2 separate regions of the Homo sapiens genome follow, and region 1 is linked to region 2. The links come from fine-mapping of genetic effects on gene expression. A gene starts in region 2. The other region holds a variant in brackets. All regions are shown on one strand. Distances are between the middles of the regions.

Region 1 (4,402 bases), 140 kb before region 2:
ATGCAAGATAAACACAGATATTTTAAAAATAACACATTTAGATCATACTTTACTTTAAAATATATATCTAGTATTTTGAAATAACAGATACACTCAATTCCAATTCTGAAATCAATATTAATTTCTCTCAATTGGCTTCTCTACATATGTTTAAGAAAATAGAAAAATAGTATAGAATTCCTAGATTGATGCACTTTTAAACATACCACAGTCAGAATTCTGAGTTCAGCTGCATTTGGAATCCTTCATTGCTGACAACAGTCTCAAATGACAATCTTCTTTAAAGCACTCTTCAGTGTGACAACTGAAAGTTCTCCCTTTCACCGCCTGCTTTTTCCATTAACTAGAATGTTACATACTGAGTGCTACACAAAGCATTTGACTGGAGGGTTTTTAGCCTACTCTCTAAATGCCAGAGTTTGAATAATCATTTTTTTTTAAAGATAACTCATCTCTTTATAAGAACATCTGTATTTTTTATTAATTTCATTTTAGGAGTTGGTTATAGGGTGGAATAGGGGGCTGCTTTCATGTGTCATTGGTTAATGTCTATGCATGAGTCACCTAAGTGACATTTAATCATATAACGTCAGTGACATTTTTATGATTTTACTGTCAATTATTAATAATCTATTGTATGTGCCATTTGAGCTGGGCAGATTAACATGGGAGGTGGGAGGTGTGTTTCAGTTTGATAATAGTGGTCTGGAAAATACTAACTTTTTAAACGGTGAACTAGGTAACACTTTTTTGATAGCGGAGTGGAGTTCACCAGGAATTCCTGTAATTTTTTTTTCTGGTTTTAAAGGAAATTGCCTCATTTTCTTGTTCACTGGAGAAAGGTATAATGGAAAGCTTTGTGGTTTCTGAAAAATCCTGCCTGTGTTCAACTTGACATTGCATTGTATTGTCTCTGAGCTGCACATAATGATATGATTGTAATCTGAGAGCACAGGAATTAACTGTCACCTAAAGGTAAACAAGCAAATAAAATTGAATGCTTTTGTCCTCATTTACTTAACATCCACATAAGAGATGCAACAGAGGATTACATTTATTTCTGTTTTAAAAATGCCTCTGTAGGGCAGCTTGTAATTGGAACTGACAAGACACTGAACCTAAGAAGTAACCACTTAATGTATATGGTCTTGAGTTAATAAGCATGCTTTAAAATTGATTTTCTAGCAGGTTCAAGAAATAGAAAAAATAACTTCACACAATGTTTGAAACAGTTAAAGAACAAATGGTATATTACTCTAATATGTAGGTTTAAATTGTCTGTGGCATGAAGGGATTAATGAAAGCAAATGGGTTTCCGTGACTGAAACCCTCATCTGGAATCCTGGTTTGCATCATGCAAGAAGTCAACCACCACAAACAAAACAAGAATTAGTTTTTTAAAACAGAAGTGTCAGAAACTATTCAGTAAACACAACAGTGCTTTATTCTGTAGGTATTTTCTTCTCTACAGTGATAATTCCTCAAAATATTCATATTTTGATTGACTGGTGAGGTTAAGAAGGCTGTGTGCGGAAATACATGGAGAAAGATGACATGGGGAGATGAAGGGCTATAAGCCGCAAGCTAGGGACAAGTGTTTTAAAATTTATCAGGATCTAACTAAGCACAGGAGCCTCAATTTTATTATATTTTCTTAAGTATAAAACATTGAAAAAACCCACAATATTCATGCTGCCTAATAAACATAATTTTCCAGTAATGTGAACATGACCCCTAACTACCCAATTCACTTGTCTCATGGTTTCTATAGTCCCTTGCACACACCTCCATTACGTGCAGTGTAGCACAGTGCTTGACAGCATGGTCCCTGTATATAATTCCTGCCTCCTCCTTACCAGCTGTGTGATAACAGGAAAGTTACGTAGCCATCTAAGCCTTCATTTCCTCACCTATGAAATGGGGGTAAAAATAGACCTTACATTTTAGAGTTGTGATGATAGAAAAGTAGAAGTCATTAAAATCCCTGTTAAGATCCCTGGTAAATGTTAGCTGTTGTAATCATTTAACATTATTATTATTAATATTGAAACTTCCAATCCAGTGTTCACAGCCTGGAGGGCTTGGAGGTGACAGATTAAGGAGGTAGATTTGACTTTCAGT[A/G]TGCTCAAATAACACGGTTTCTGATCTGTCTTCTCTGGCTGCTTTCATGTCTGAACAACTAGAGAACTATTTGATTTGAGCCTGTGATTGATTGAATGTTTAAATATCAAGTAGAACCATTATCTGCACCATTTAACTGGAATGCCCATACATTAATTTATTGAATTTACTTTCACATCCCATCAAACTATGTATACTTTTTTTGCAGAGAAGTTATTGCAGCTCTCATTTTAGAGCTAACATCCTTCAGGGAGGCTTAGGAGATATATCTTCCAAAATAAATTCTTAAGTACTCATGGGAAAAACAAATTGGTGATTCGAGAAACCTCTATGTGTTTAATTACTGAGACATTAGTGTCAGGGGAGAGAAAACACCTTTGACTTATTTTTTGTTTCTTTGTATCATATATGAAATACGACTTCCTAAATAGGCACATTTTTTTCCCCTTATAGTCTTTCTGGGAACTAAAGGCATCTACCCCAACAAATCCATCTCTCACCTAATTTCATTCTCTCAGGTAAATCGTCTCATGTCATGACTTCCTAGCCCTCTGCTATAGACATATTGCAGCTCTACACACAACTGTTGGCAGCTGTAGGAGCTTTTGTGCAGTTTTATTTGTTTTGTGATGGTGGTGGTGTTGCTGCTTATTTCATATTTTGATTGGTAAGGGGAGTTCCCATACTGTAATAGATTCAGTTGAAAATATTTAGTCTACTTATTATTATTTGATCCTAAGGAATAGAAACTTTCTATTATTTGACTACTTTTGTTGAGGTTTAGTGATATTATATTTGTAACAAATTATCTATTTTTACTTAGGGGTTTGTTGATACAAGAATAAATTACAAACAGGTCAATCTAGTTACAGGAGGTTGTAAATTAGCCACACAATTTAGAGCTGCCTTACTTCAGAGTAATGTTTCAGGGTTTTGGAAAGAGATAAATCTGAGAGTATATCTCAGAGATTGAACTGGACACAGAAAAGCCGAGTCTACAGTTAAAGAGACACACCACAGTGCAGCTCTGGTTCCACCTAGCTTACAGACTTGGGCAATAAACGTTTCTGTTAATTCCTTATTTTCTTGTTTGTCAAAATGAGAGTATTACTACCTAATGTCATTGAATTATTGTGAAACTTAAATTAGATAATGTATATAAAGTGCTTACCACAGCTTCTGGTGCAAAAGTGATCAGTGCATATTAGGACAAAGAAACTGAAATGCTTCTTACCATGGTTATTGGGCTAAAAAAGGTGAAGTCCTGAATGGCTATTGTCATGCCAGTGTAACAAAATGGAAAAACTGTTTGGAAAACAAGACTATCTTATTTTAAATCCTGGCTCAGTCATTTATTAGCTGTATGAGATTGTAAAAAGGTAATGATATTATAATATTTATGGCTTAAATCTATGAATACTTAAGTTTTATGTCCTTTGAATTTTACCACCCGGTGTTAAAAACTATAAACATCTCTTGTATATCATTCTAAATATTTTCCCCATGAAAACCAGCTAGATATTTTTATAGAATTGGCATTATACTGCACATTTTTTTACAGCCACTTTATTATATAATTATACACTGTGATCATGTCCTATTATCCTTAAATAGTTTAGAGATTTTCAACATAGTACTGCCTTGTCTGAGGGCATTACGAATTACTATTTTAAATGTTATCATTTACTCTTGACTCTGGAAGTGGTCCTCCCCCACCACAAATTACAATGTGAGAAACATTCTTAAACAGAATTATTTGGGCTAACTTCTTGCTTTTTTTTTTTTCTGTTTTTTTTTTGAGAGGGTCTCCCTCTCTCTCTCTCTCTCAGGTTGGAATGCAGTTGTATAACCATGGCTCACTGTAGCCTCCACCTCTCAGGCTCAAGTGATCCTCCTGCCTCAGTCTCCCGAGTAGTTGGGACTACAGGTATGTGCCACCATACCCGGATCATTTTTGTATTTTTTCTGTAGAAACAGGGTTTCACTGTGTATCTCAGCCTGTTCTCAAACTCCTGGGCTCACACTCCAGATTACTTATCTGCCCTCCTCAGCCTCCCAAAGTGCTGGGATTATAGGCATGAGCTACCACACCCAGAAATTTGGCTAACTTCTAATTGCATTCTCTGCATAAATTCCTAGAACTAATCAAAGGGCAAAATTACCTTTAGGTACTGAACCTTCCTTGTGAAATTGTTTTCCAGAAAATTTGGCTCAATGTACATATTGGCCAGCAAGGAATAAAAATGATAGCTTATAGTTTAAAAGTACAACAAAACCTAAT
Region 2 (4,402 bases):
TTGCAAAGTTCCTATCATCTTTGTCTTCATTCTGAAAGTTTATGTATGTTTAAAACCATGATTAAAGAGAACACAACTTCTTGAAGCAGTTTAACTTTATTTGAAATGTTTAGAGTTGAAGTAGAAGTGCATACTAGGTGAAATTTTTGTCTACCCCTACAGTCTCACACATCACTCCCAATTTCAACATATATTTGAAACATCCTAGAGAACTTGGGCTTGAACTGAGTACAGAATTATGGAACTGGAAACTCAGTCAGTCCCATATTCTGTCTTACGCAGGAATCCCTTCGAAATTGTTTCTTGTGTGTTAATCTAGTTTTTGTTAAAAACAAACAAAAAAGTCAAGGGCCGGGTACAGTGGCTCACACCTGTAATCCCAGCACTTTGGGAGGCTAAGGCGGGCGGATCACGAGGTCAGGAGATGGAGGCCATCCTGGCTAATACGGTGAAACCCCGTCTCTACTAAAAACACAAAAAAATTAGCTGGGCTTGGTGGCGGGCGCCTGTAGTCCCAGCTACTCAGGAGGCTGAGGCAGGATAATGGCATGAACCTGGGATGCAGAGCTTGCAGTGAGCCGAGATCGCGCCACTGCACTCCAGCCTGGGCAACAGAGCGAGACTCCACCTCAAAAAAAAAAAAAAAGTCAAAGAGCTACATAAAAACAACTGTTGATGAAAGAAATACAAATAATATCTGGAGGGTGGGGATGAGAATATTTAAGTAAATATTTACTTTGAATGAACAAATTCAGCATTCCAGAATTCACACATCTAAGGCACTCTATGGTTAACTGTATCATAATTACCATTATTAATTCAGCAAAGTGGCAATTGTGTTAATTAATGCTTCTGGATAATAAAACTCCAAAAACTGTGAATGTGCCTCAAAATAAAAATGCTCTGTAAAAAGCCTTTTAAACCAAATAAGAAACAAAGATCAAAGAGTGAGGATAACTTGAACATACAGATTCTTGTCACTATGCCCAGCAAGAAACTTGAGGGAGAAACTAAAAGACATAATACGAAGCCCCTAGAAGAGAAACCTAACCTCAAGAACTTGAAACCCAGAATCAAGCATGGGACATGGGCAAACAATAAATTTTCCCAAGGAAGTGACAGAGCCCCTTTAACTGCAACAGGCCAACTCTGGAACTCCCCCAAGAATTCATTTATCTTATGATTGTGTAAATGCGTCTCAAGGAGTAGACACACTTTTGTGAAGATTACTCAACATTTGAACCACAGAAGACGGCAGATATTGTTGAACATTTCTGTCCTCACCCCTCAGAGCTCTACTGAGCTATTCGGACAATCCCTACTAAGCGGGTTTACTGCAGTGCATTGAAACAGTCTTCACAGAGATATACATTAAGTCAAGTCCTGAAATGACGAATTCCGATACTCCCAGGCACTGTGCGGAGGCTCAGAAAATCACTCATCTAGGATGCAGAGTGAAGAGGAATTTAATTTTTTTTTTTTTTTTAACTTCACAGAGTTCCCCACCTCTGTGTCGCATAAGCCTGCAAAGGATGCTCCTACACAACTGCAAGGGCATGCAGGGGGGAAGTGACGCCCGCAGGGAGAGGGGAGCAAGATTCCAACTGACCTTTTTGCTGTTTAAAGGACTGAATGGAGCCTGAATGGTGGACCATTTTCACTCTGCGCGTCCCAGCCGGCTTAGGGAGCTGCCCGAGAGGGAGGCGGAGGAACAGTAGCCAGACTCTAGACGCTCCAAGGTCCGGAGCCTCAGCGAGCGCACTGCAATCCGACACCTGCTGTAGCCGGCACTTCGCTCTCCAGGCTACGCGCCCGCCGGTGTCGTTGTCATGGGAACGCGGGAGGGCGGTCTAGCGTCCGGCTCCCCTTAGCGGCTACTCTGGGAACAACCCCGCATCCCCCGCGCGTCCAGTGCCACAGTGAGGGGTGGGCGTTGAGCGGGGTTGGCTGGGAGTGGGAGCAGAAGACTTTACTGGAGGAGGAGATATAAATCGGAGCAAACCTCTAGAGCTGATACTGATGCCCTCTTTGCCAAGCTTTGAGGCTGGTTATTTATTTCCTAAAAGTTGGTAGGTAAACCCTGGGACTTTTAAGGAAGGGCAAAGTTGGTCTGTGCTCTGAGAGGGTATGCAGTGGCAGATGCAGAGACGTTTCTGTTTTTCTTTCTTAAATTTAAGTAGAGGGGGCAGAAAGCCACCCCAGCTTAGTTAGCCAGTAGCATGTTTTATTAGGTAAGCTGTGTTCTATGTCTAGCACTTTTCACTTGAGTTTTCCTCTTCTTCTTCTGCCATTCAGGCCTTGAATCATTTATGATGATGATGACTGAGGACCATTTATAACCTACTTAGTCACAGGGGCTGAAAAAACACTACCCACGATGCTCGATTTAATCTTCATAAAAGCCCTGTAATGTAGGTAAACTATGATTCTAATATTATAAAAAGAAACTTAAGATCAGAGCAACAAAGATTTCTCAAGACCACATAAATCAACACCTTATTTGAAAGAGAAGGCACCCGATACCCAAAGAAGTGAAGTAACTCTTTTTGTTTAGTTTGAGAAGTTTTATTTTATTATTTATTTATATCTTCACCATGTATTTTAAGTTCGTGGTACATGTGCAGGATGCGCAGGTTTGTTACATAGGTAAACGTATGCCATGGTGGTTTGCTGCACAGATCACCCCATCACCCGGGTATTGAGCCCAGCAGCCATTAGCTATTGTTCCTAATGCTCTCCCTCCCCCTCCAACAGGCCCCAGTGTGTGTTGTTCCCCCATTGTGTCCGTGTGTTCTCATCATTCAGCTCCCACTTTGAAGTAACTTTTGAAAGACCAAACTGCAGTGGCCAAAATAGGACCAGAAGCTAGCTGAACACATTTTTCAGTAGGATCTCCTTTCCTCCATCTATCTCTGCTCCCTGATTCAAAGCCCTAAGTTCTTCCTGGAAGATGTAAGATGTTATTGAACAGACACATCGTGAGAGTCCGTTGCTTCCTCAGTTTTGAAGTTTTATGGAATCAACTCAGAATCAGGTGAATAATCCAAATAAAAGCAGATAAAAAATATGCAGAAATTTCCAAACTTTCGATACCTCAAAAATATTGAGTTATTATTGTATGCTGTTTGATTCATCTGTGGTGCATGATACAAAAGAATGAGGGGAATATAGCTTTGAACAAACAGATGCTCCAATTATTTATGGATGCATAACAAACTACCCTGAAACTAAGCTGTAAACTAAAATTTATTATTATTACTTATGGATTTTGCAGGTGGGCTAGATTCAGACAGGCAGTTATCTCTCAGAGTCTCTCTTGATTGTTCAGTAACTGGTCTTAAAGTCATCTGAAGCAAAAAGCGAAATTGGATTCTACTCTCAGTGGGAGGAAGAGCAAACAATGTGCTACCTTCTTTAATGTATCATAATGGTCTTTCCAGAAAGAAATGCTGAGCATTCAATAAGAGCTCAGTATGCAGGCATTGAAGAAATACTTGGTTACAGACAATGAACTCAGTGTGAGTTCACCTCCAAATGAAGATCTAAAACACAGTTCAGAGACTGTCTCCGTAAGGGCTTTTAATACAGATATTGTATAGATGAGGGCATTGAAACCGAGAAGAATAAATGACTTGCTCGAGGATGTTTTTTTTAAATTTTGTTCATCCAGAGTTAAAATTCTGATAGAACTCAGCTTACAGATCATTCTGATGTGAACCAACTCATTGATTCTAATGCAACCCAATTCTCCTACGTGAGGATTAGACAATGAATTTAAGAATGGCAGAAAACTAACACCCAATACTTACTAGTCAGTTATGACCCCTGTAGATCTCATTTAAATGTTTAAAACCCCCTTTTAAATCACCGGTTTTAGAATCAGAAATATTTTTGAAATTTAAACTTTAATTCAATCCCTGGTCAGCAGGACTAGTTAAAAGAATTAAAGTCCCCTCGCCGGGCGGTGGCGGGCGCCTGTAGTCCCAGCTACTCAGGAGGCTGAGGCAGGAGAATGGCTTGAACCCGGGAGGCGGAGCTTGCGGTGAGCCTAGATCGCACCACCGCACTCCAGCCTGGGAAACAGAGCGAGACTCCGTCTCAAAAAAAAAAAAAAAAAATTTAAGTCCCTCTATTCCACATTTCTAGGCACAGGTATCACCTTTACCTTCCTAAGATCTTTTTCTGTTGATCCCTGATTTTCTCCAACCTACTCCCTGATCCAAAACCCAGCAGGAGGCAAATATGTATCTGCCAGAACTAGAAATGAGTTGAGATTTTGAACCTCATTGGATTTTTTTCCAAGGAAAGAATGTTTGTTATTATTTCTAACACCCTTGCACCCTAACCTCCTTGGTGCAGCTATGATTAAACTATCTTGTCATAAAGTTAATTACTTTTCTTA

Direction of the effects. Alleles are on the strand shown, and positions count from the first base shown. SD is a standard deviation of normalised expression in the study named.
In carriers of allele G in region 1, the expression in pancreatic islets of the gene that starts at base 1,801 in region 2 tends to be higher than with A alone (moderate effect, 0.69 SD a copy in van de Bunt 2015).

The links. PIP is the estimated chance that this variant, and not a neighbour inherited with it, causes the effect.
Region 1: its variant is the best candidate, but not a certain one, in a credible set for the expression of ANO3 in pancreatic islets (van de Bunt 2015, PIP 0.60).

What each region holds. Positions count from the first base shown.
Region 1 is chr11:26,469,933-26,474,334 of GRCh38, reverse strand. The region is part of intron 4 of ANO3 (anoctamin 3); the gene reads right to left. Among named protein-coding and RNA genes, the nearest start is that of MUC15, 100 kb to the left of the region's middle. The variant A/G (reference allele first, on the strand shown) is at 2,122.
Region 2 is chr11:26,329,529-26,333,930 of GRCh38, reverse strand. ANO3 (anoctamin 3) reads right to left here and starts at 1,801. Exons shown (of 27, transcript NM_031418.4): 1 at 1,610-1,801. The coding sequence starts at 1,655. LOC105376598 (a long non-coding RNA gene) reads left to right here and starts at 1,957. Exons shown (of 3, transcript XR_931138.3): 1 at 1,957-2,069; 2 at 2,296-2,411.